Linked DNA regions of Homo sapiens. The protein of the gene in region 1 interacts with the protein of each later gene in a biochemical or structural test. Each region holds a gene or a part of one and is shown in the gene's direction. Other genes may lie near its edges.

Region 1 (2,824 bases):
CAGCGACCTCCTGCTGGCTGTGGCTTGCATGCCCTTCACCCTCCTGCCCAATCTCATGGGCACATTCATCTTTGGCACCGTCATCTGCAAGGCGGTTTCCTACCTCATGGGTGGGTGAGACAACCACCCCACCCCCACTTGCCACTCTCCCCGCCTAAAGCTCTTGTGGATGTAGGGGTCTTCCCCGGTTGGCAGGGAGGGGTGTGAGGAAGTCCCACTGATGCTTGTGTAGTGCAAGTTTCCTAGGTGACTCCTTCCTTTCTCTTCCCTTGTTTAGGGGTGTCTGTGAGTGTGTCCACGCTAAGCCTCGTGGCCATCGCACTGGAGCGGTACAGCGCCATCTGCCGACCACTGCAGGCACGAGTGTGGCAGACGCGCTCCCACGCGGCTCGCGTGATTGTAGCCACGTGGCTGCTGTCCGGACTACTCATGGTGCCCTACCCCGTGTACACTGTCGTGCAACCAGTGGGGCCTCGTGTGCTGCAGTGCGTGCATCGCTGGCCCAGTGCGCGGGTCCGCCAGACCTGGTGAGCTTGCCCATAAACTATCCTAGGAATTCCTTTCTCACCCCTATTAGATGCTTACGACCATTGCCCAGAATCTTCCTCCAGCTTCCCGGAGAATTACCACGCCAACTCCTATTCTGCATCCACCACCCTGGAGTTCCAGTTTGGGGCCCCTCCCCAGTTCTCTCTCCCTTCCCAGCGGCACCCCCAAATCCTACTCCTACTTCAGGTACCTGGCCACAGCCCTAGAAACACTAGTCCTTGGCTTTTTCTCCATCTGTGATTACAGCTGGACAGAAACCCGAGTGATCTGTCTGTGTTGCCTTCAGGTCCGTACTGCTGCTTCTGCTCTTGTTCTTCATCCCGGGTGTGGTTATGGCCGTGGCCTACGGGCTTATCTCTCGCGAGCTCTACTTAGGGCTTCGCTTTGACGGCGACAGTGACAGCGACAGCCAAAGCAGGGTCCGAAACCAAGGCGGGCTGCCAGGTGGGGCTGGACCACGTGAGCAAAATCTGGGCGAGGCGGAGCTTTGGAGGGCGACGGGGCCTGCTGGAGTGGGTGGGACTGAAATGAAGGTGAGGGTGAGAAGGAAGCTGGAAATGGAGTTGAGCTGGGAGCGGAGGTCAGGTGGGGACTGGGCTGGAGACTGGGGGGACTCGCCTTTTTCTCTGACCGCCCACCCTTTGTGCTCAGGGGCTGTTCACCAGAACGGGCGTTGCCGGCCTGAGACTGGCGCGGTTGGCGAAGACAGCGATGGCTGCTACGTGCAACTTCCACGTTCCCGGCCTGCCCTGGAGCTGACGGCGCTGACGGCTCCTGGGCCGGGATCCGGCTCCCGGCCCACCCAGGCCAAGCTGCTGGCTAAGAAGCGCGTGGTGCGAATGTTGCTGGTGATCGTTGTGCTTTTTTTTCTGTGTTGGTTGCCAGTTTATAGTGCCAACACGTGGCGCGCCTTTGATGGCCCGGGTGCACACCGAGCACTCTCGGGTGCTCCTATCTCCTTCATTCACTTGCTGAGCTACGCCTCGGCCTGTGTCAACCCCCTGGTCTACTGCTTCATGCACCGTCGCTTTCGCCAGGCCTGCCTGGAAACTTGCGCTCGCTGCTGCCCCCGGCCTCCACGAGCTCGCCCCAGGGCTCTTCCCGATGAGGACCCTCCCACTCCCTCCATTGCTTCGCTGTCCAGGCTTAGCTACACCACCATCAGCACACTGGGCCCTGGCTGAGGAGTAGAGGGGCCGTGGGGGTTGAGGCAGGGCAAATGACATGCACTGACCCTTCCAGACATACGAAACACAAACCACAACTGACACAGGAAACCAACACCCAAAGCATGGACTAACCCCAACGCACAGGAAAAGGTAGCTTACCTGACACAAGAGGAATAAGAATGGAGCAGTACATGGGAAAGGAGGCATGCCTCTGATATGGGACTGAGCCTGGCCCATAGAAACATGACACTGACCTTGGAGAGACACAGCGTCCCTAGCAGTGAACTATTTCTACACAGTGGGAACTCTGACAAGGGCTGACCTGCCTCTCACACACATAGATTAATGGCACTGATTGTTTTAGAGACTATGGAGCCTGGCACAGGACTGATTCTGGGATGCTCCTAGTTTGACCTCACAGTGACCCTTCCCAATCAGCACTGAAAATACCATCAGGCCTAATCTCATACCTCTGACCAACAGGCTGTTCTGCACTGAAAAGGTTCTTCATCCCTTTCCAGTTAAGGACCGTGGCCCTGCCCTCTCCTTCCTTACCCAAACTGTTCAAGAAATAATAAATTGTTTGGCTTCCTCCTGAACTTCCTTTCTGGATTCTTCTGGGGCAGGTGAGGAGGCATAGGATTTTGCAGTATCCTTCTGTCGGGTCTCTCCCACTGTTGCACACTGCTGTGCACAACCCCTTGCCAGAAAGCCCAGCCTCTGAGGTTCAGCGTGGCTGTGCATATTCTTTCTGAGTTTTCATCCTCTACCTACATTCCAATGTTGCAATAACTGTGAATGGGGATGGAAAATGGCATATCCATGACATATCATGATTCCTGATCACATTATCCCAAAGTGGTGCCACTGTTAAGGTACTATATTAATGGATGCTTATTAAATTTTGATGAAAAGATAAAAGAGGAAGCACTGTATAATAAGACTAAGTTTATTCAATGTGTGTTTGAAACACCAGAGATCAGACCATGACAGGTATACAGAATGAATACAGTTAATTAAAGAGTAGGGATTTTTTGCTGTACTCTCTTCCCCAGTGTCAAAACCTGGCCAAGATTCTGCCAAATGGAAGCACTTTTAGTAGCTAC
Region 2 (6,979 bases), on another chromosome or scaffold:
AGCATGTCCCTGGAAATTCCACTAAGTTTTCTACACATACAAAATTGACATATGTCTTTGAGCTAGGTCTCATGACTAAAAAAATCGTGTATTGAAAATATATCTGTTTCAGGAACTAATCTTCGGGGATACCTCCCCAACTCTGAGCAAGATCTTACTTAAATTCATTTCACCGCAATCAGATGGGAATTTCTAGACTCCAAACCAGTGAACAGTCACAGGTTTCCTCTCTCCACTATTTCCTTTCCAACGCGGCATCTGGATATGGCACCCTCCACTCTCAGTCCTCCAGATAAAGGCAGGGACCAGCTGGTGCGTCTCATTCCATGATGGGGAAGAGTGGGTGGTGGTGGGAAGGACACAGAGGGCACTGCCTTTTCCATTCCTTTTCTGAGACAAGAGAATGAGCTTGGCAGAAAAGTTAGTTACCGTCTCACATTTGATGAAATACAAAACAATCTCCAAACAGTGCGAACTCCCATACAACTTCCTTTTTCTCTATTTGGACTGAAAAGCAAAACCATTTCTCCATAATGTACATACATAGCAAGGTCTACACAGCAGACAGCCTAACAGGGCATCCCCCAGCAGTGGTTTGCATACGTTCATGCGGGTGCCCAGTCCTCCACAGACCCTCCCCCTACTCTACTTTTCTTGAAAACATGTGTGCACCTTCCATGCCTGCTGTGTATTTTTTAAATTGTCTGTCTCCTCCACTAGAATGGAAGCATCACAAGCACAGGGATTTTGTCTGTCTTGCTCACCACTGAATCCCAACAGTGCCCGAAAGACAGTTGGTGTCTTTGATAGGGTTATACTAAAATTAGACAGACTTGAGTACATGTCGTTTATTTGGGAGAGGAGGAAGAAATGAGAAGAGTAAGACAAAGAAGGAGGAAAAAACAACTAAAGAGATGTTATCAGCTGGGCTTGGTGGCTCACACTTGTAATCCCAACACTTTGGGAGACTGAGAAGGGAGGATTACTTGAGCCTAGGAATTTGAGACAAGCCTAGGCAACATGGTGAGACCCTGTCTCTACAAAAAATTAAAGTATTAGCAGAGTATGGTGGTGTGCACCTGTGTTCCCAGCTACTCAGGAGGCTGAAGTGGGAAGATTGTTTAAGCCAGGAAGCCGGGTTTGCACCACTGCACTCCAGCCTGGGTGACGGAGTAAGACCCTGTCTAAAGAGAGAGAGGGAGAGAGAGAGAGAAAAAAAAAAGAGAGAGAGAGCTGTTATCAAGTTCACCGATACAGGCAAAGGACCGTTGAGAAGTCTTTAGAAGCTTCCAGAAGGGTTCATACAGAGAGACTGGGGTTCCCATTCCCCACTGGCTGAAGATTGTCTTTCGGGGAGATAACACCCAAACTTACAGGCTGAACCTCTGCAAGGGCTGAACTTTGAAGGAGATAAGCCAAGAGGGGTGCTTTGAAAGCTTGAAGTGGGAATGCTGTCTGCTGAAAACTGCCCAGCCTGGCTAGGCTGCAGCTGAAGCCAGAGGGAGAACGTGGAACTGTGGTGAGGAGCACCAAAGGCATCTGCCTCAGGAGACATCAAGCCCATTTTTTTAAGTGAACAAATGGATTATCTTTAATGCGGATATGCATCTGGATTACAGGAATAGTGTCGGCTCCAGGCCTAACTTGCTTAGGAACCATAGTCAGAATAATTAGTACCTGTTGACCCTGTAAGAAGGAAAAATCATGACTATGGCCAAGGAGTTCAGATCCCTTATGTCTTTCTATTTTCCTAGCAGCTCTTCTATCACACATTTCCTGCTCAGAATTTCCACTCCTGAGAGACAAGCGGCTACAACTGCTTTATTTTACAATAAAGAGGCAAGCAGCTCTCTTGATCGTAAATGAGAAAGGCCCATGCACAAGCCCTTCTTCAGCTTCTGATGGTCCCTGTCACCTCTGGCTCTGCACTGGCATTTCCACGCTGGCCTCCTTGGCCCACTTGTCTGGTTCTGTACCAGCTCTTTTTCCTCCACCCACTCCTTCACGCTGTCACTCCTCAGCGGTCTGTCTAGAGGCACCCTGCCACCCATTGCTAGCTGCCTTCCTCAACTCTCCCTATAACTCCCAGGCTGGCAGCCACCACCCACATGCCAGACTCTGGGTCCACCCCTCCAGTGTCTCTCTGCTCAGGACAAAGGCTCCCAAACTCCTCCTAGACTGTCAATGCACAAACGATCAACCAATCCCATACTGGACTCATTACCCGCTCCCCACTGGCCCACTACCACCACGGCCACACTCCAAGCCTGCTTTTCCTTCTGAATTCCCTGTCTTGGATAATACTCTACCACCCACCCTTGTCTCCCAGCCTGGAAACTCAAGGTCAGTCTCAGTCACCAAGTCCGGTTCCCTCTACCAGTTTCCTGAGCAGCAACAGGTTGTTCCCTGGGAGGCTGGAATTTTTCTTCTTTTCTCTACTTTTGTTTTCTGAATGTTCTCTGATGAACACTTATGACTTGCATAATGTTTATTATGTTTCCTAATAATTAATGGGTTTCATAATGGCTTATTATTCTAAAACAAATCTACCTTGATTGTTCCTGCTTGCCCATCCCCGAGGGCCTCCTATCCAGCCCTCCCCTTCCAGTCCCTCTGCCTTTTGGGCATCTTCCATATTACCACCTAGCTCCCCTCACCAAAACATTTCTCCAAGATTACCTCCTACCATCTCCACTCCATAGTCCCCAAATATCAGAATTGTTGAGAAGTGTTTGTCCACTTGTTTGCTTCAGCTCCCCTATTGTATTGTCAGCTCTTGTTCATACTGAATCCCTGGGGCCTGGCACAAAGTAAGTGTTGAATAAACATGAATTAAATGGATCAAGGCCAGGAGTTGAGTAACTGGTATAAGGTAGGGAATTTCTATAGAAATGATCTCAAAGTGTGCTTGGCGGACTAGCATTTTCAGTATGGCCTGGGAACTTGTTAGAAATGTAGATTCTTGGTGGGGCGTGGTGGCTCACGCCTGTAGTCCCAGCATTTTGGGAGGCCAAGGTGGGTAGATCACCTGAGGTCAGAAGTTCGAGACCAACCTAGCCAACATGGTGAACCCTTGTCTCTACTAAAAATATAAAAATTAGCCAGGCATGGCTGCACATGCCTGTAATCCCAGCCGCTGGGGAGGCTGAGGCAGGAGAATCGTTTGAACCTGGGAGGCAGAGGTTGCAGTGAGCCGAGATCATGCCACTGTACTCCAGCCTGGGCGACAGAGTGAGACTCTGTCTCAAAGAAGGAAAGGCAAGGAAAGGAAGGAAGGAAGGAAGGAAGGAAGGAAGGAAGGAAGGAAGGAAGGAAGGAAATGAAGAAAGAAAGAAAGAAATAAAGAAGAAAGAAAGAAAGAGAGAGAGAAAGAGGGAAAGAGGGAGAAGGAGAGACGGAGGGAGGGAGGGGGGAAGGAAGGAAGGAAGGAGGGAGGGAAGGAAGGAAGGAAGGAAGGAAGGAAGGAAGGAAGGAAGGGAGAGAGGGAAAGAGGGAAGGGGAGAGAGGGAGGGAAGGAGGGAGGAAGGGAGGGAGGGAGGGAGGAAGGAAGGGAGGGAGGGAGGGAAGGAGGGAAGGAGGAAGAAAGGAAGGAAGGAAGGAAGGAAGGAAGGAAGGAAGGAAGGAAGGAATTCGGATTCTTGGGCCCTTCCTCAGACCTACTGAATTAGAAGCTCTGGGGGTATTTCGATAACAAGTTTATGTTTCCAGACATGTCTTGCCACAATCACAAATAAGACTCTTTTTCGCAACTGAACTACACAAACCTTAGCAGGCTCGTGGCGAAACCACTGGAAAGCATTTAATCAGCTTCAGCTCTTTCAAACATGTTGCCCATAGGTTGCAGAAACGCAGCTGCCTCTCAGGATTAGAAAGTGGAGCAGCAACCGGAGGCGTCTCTGGGCCGCCCCCCCAACCCCCCCACCCCGCCTCGCCCACTCCACCCTCACACTGGCGTTGCCACAGTCCCTCCATTCCAGAGGGAATTCCAGAGCGGAATACGGATTCCGATTTTAAAATAAGCGCTTCTAAATCTTTCTCCTTGCATCTAAGACGGGTGGGGGAAAGAAAGGGAGAGGAGTTGAGGTCCCAAGGTTCAAGGCCTGGTGATCTCCAGGTCCCAGGCTGGGCGGCCTCGGTGCACGGAGAGGGCGAGGGGCGTGTTGTGGAGCCTTGGCAAGGCGCTGCTCTTCCTCGCGCCTCGGTTTGCGGTCTGTGAAATGGGGTTGGCAGTGCCTTTGCAGGGACGCGGCGAACTCAAGCACCAGCAAGCGGACTCGAACTCAAAGGGTTTCAGGGTGTAGACGACCAGAGCGCACTGAGGGGCTCCAGGTCGGCCCGCTCCGGAGCCGGGAGAGTAACCGCGTGCAGGGAAAGGCGCACGGCAGCCTCGGTGCCTCCCTTCCCTCCACCGGACGGGTGACTGACTAGGGGTGAGGTCCTCACCTCCAGGCTGCGCAGCTGAGTTCTGGAAGGTACTGTCCTGGGGGTGTGAGTGTGTGGGCCCTCAGGAAAGGTGCGAGGGGCGGATGCCGTGGTCTACCCGAGCTTGCGGGGGTGCGGTGGTCAAGTTCCCCAGGACCCTCGCTGGCGCCGCTTGTCGACAACGGGGAACAGTGGGCGCCGCGGGTGGTGGTAACTTGGCCCGGGAAGAAAACACATCCCTTTCCCAAACCGGATTCCTCTGAGCAAAACCAGATGGTGTCATCCGCATTTTACAGCTGCGTCAAGAGAGGCCCAGGACACCAAGAGCCAGCTGTGGCCAGAGCCCTTTCACTGACCCAGAACACTGGCCCTCGGAAACCTGGAGAACTGCGAGGGCTTTTAATGCGGCTGAGAAGAAAGTGAAGACCCCGACTCCTCCTCTCTCCTTCGAAAGAGCCGACACAGGTATGAAGACCAGCGCCTCGGACGCTCCGGGGTAGGGGGCCGACGCCCCCTCCCTTTCAGAATCACGCCTTGCTGATGCTCAGTCCTGCCCAGTGTCCACCCCCCACCCCCGCCCCCAGTTTCCTTTCTAGCCCCTCCGGTCCCCAAAGCGAACTAAGCTAGCGGCAGCTTCTCCATCCCGGAGGAGACTCCAAACTCCTAGGTTTCCCACCTTGGAGAGTACTGCTCTGGAATGCGCAGGGGAGCGGCACCTGGAAAGGGTTGGGCGGAAGCTTCTCGGACCCAGAGGGGGCGGACACCCGGCACCGCGCGTGGGAGGGATTAACTCCACCCCACTAGACCACCTCCCCCTCTCTCCCAGGAGCCACTTCAACCGGTTGTCGCCCCAGTGGCCGCCCTCTGAGCACGTGTTACTGCCAGTCTGCGTCAGCGTTGGGTAAATACATGACTGGCCGACGCCGCCGGGTGGGGCTATTTAAGAGACAGCCGCCCGCTGGTCCTCCCTGAACTTGGCTCAGCTGCCGGGCTGCTCCGGTTGGAAACGCCAAGCCAGCTGCGTCCTAATCCAAAAGGTAGGTCCCTCGGTTCGTCAGCGGGGGATCCAAGTGTCGTGTGTCTTTGAAGGATGCTGTCTTCAGCTTTGTGCCCATTTCCATTATGCTTTTCTATTTTCTGTGTCTTCCCTCCGAGAGCTCGAAAGACATTTCTTGAAGTCAGAAATAACGGCTCTGGGTCTAAAAGTGAGGTCTGGGTGGGTAGAGCTGCTTTAGAGCCTTTCATACGCCAGCATCATTAAGGGATGAACTACCCATTCGCTAAGATTCGCATGCAGATTGAGTTTGCTAGCTGTTACACAGCGGTGCGGGGGACTTTGCAATCTTTTCTAATAAAATATTAGAGGGTTTTAAGATTTAAATTCATTTTCTAAATACTGCAGAAAATTTCGAGGCTTTACGGATAGAAACTTGAGGGTGTTTTATCCACTAGCGATCTAAAATGCACGGGGCTTTCGAAGCCTGAGCGCTGGGCACATATTTCTGATTTTAAAACCTGCCTATGTTCTGCGTAGTGGCTTATTGCCATTTCCCACGTACACTTTGAGAAAAACTTTATAAATACGGCTTTATTTATTGCTCCTACATTTTAAACTGTGCTTCTCTTTTTCATCATTTACTGTATTTCCATATTGAAAGCTTGTTAGCTATCTGGAAAAGTGCTTTCCCCAGGGTTCTCATTTCTCCCACGGAGTCTTCCCTTTAGGATATTTTTTTCACACTATTTTTAATCTCGTGGGGTTTTATTTTTCTTCTTTCGGTTAGAAGAGAGGCACTCTGCAAACACTTCCTCAAACTTTAGGAAAGCAAAAACATTCCTTCTGCTCAACACGGCAGAAAACAGGGTCTCTGCCCCTTGGCGCTGGGTGAGGAGTTCCCAAAGACCAGCCAGGTGCGCCCGGGGGCGCGCGCCATGGCACTCGGCTGGGGTCAGCGCTTGGCGAGCCCTCGTGCTTGCGGCGGCCTGGCGGGTCTGGAGCACCTGTGTTTGTCCTAAGCCCGCTTCTGGGTGCCCGGCCCGCCGCAGGAGCTCTGTTGCCCAGCCTTTCAGTTAACGCGCCCTCCTCCTTTGCTCGCTACAGCCATGAACAGCGGCGTGTGCCTGTGCGTGCTGATGGCGGTACTGGCGGCTGGCGCCCTGACGCAGCCGGTGCCTCCCGCAGATCCCGCGGGCTCCGGGCTGCAGCGGGCAGAGGAGGCGCCCCGTAGGCAGCTGAGGGTATCGCAGAGAACGGATGGCGAGTCCCGAGCGCACCTGGGCGCCCTGCTGGCAAGATACATCCAGCAGGCCCGGAAAGGTAAGAATGCTGCCTCCCCATCCCTCACTTCTGCCCTTGTTCCCAGGCTCCCGATGCTGACCCTCTTCTCTAGCGCTAGCCTGATGGGGATGACCTCTCTCGGTAGGAAACAAGCAACATGATTTCTGGCGGTCCTTTGTAGCAATCTGAGAAGGGGTATGGAGGACTTAATTTATAAGTAAGGGGAACCTTCTTGAAAAGCTTTCTTTGAACTAATTTTTAGCAGTGTTGCTGATTAAG

What was found. Proteins that work in one complex are often made in the same cells at the same time.
Region 2: the proteins of CCKBR (region 1) and CCK form a complex in vitro, tested with the Homo sapiens proteins (3 studies listed by BioGRID).

Annotation. Positions count from the first base shown.
Region 1 is NC_000011.10:6,269,811-6,272,634, forward strand, and holds the end of CCKBR (gastrin/cholecystokinin type B receptor), read left to right. Parts: coding exon 1-110; intron 111-277; coding exon 278-527; intron 528-835; coding exon 836-993; coding exon of another isoform or gene 994-1,200; coding exon 1,201-1,733; 3' UTR 1,734-2,317; downstream 2,318-2,824. UniProt on the Homo sapiens protein: Receptor for gastrin and cholecystokinin. The CCK-B receptors occur throughout the central nervous system where they modulate anxiety, analgesia, arousal, and neuroleptic activity.
Region 2 is NC_000003.12:42,263,177-42,270,155, reverse strand, and holds the start of CCK (cholecystokinin preproprotein), read left to right. Parts: upstream 1-3,970; 5' UTR 3,971-4,472; intron 4,473-4,718; 5' UTR 4,719-4,887; intron 4,888-5,248; 5' UTR 5,249-5,459; intron 5,460-6,208; exon of another isoform or gene 6,209-6,333; intron 6,334-6,523; 5' UTR 6,524-6,525; coding exon 6,526-6,739; intron 6,740-6,979. UniProt on the Homo sapiens protein: This peptide hormone induces gall bladder contraction and the release of pancreatic enzymes in the gut. Its function in the brain is not clear.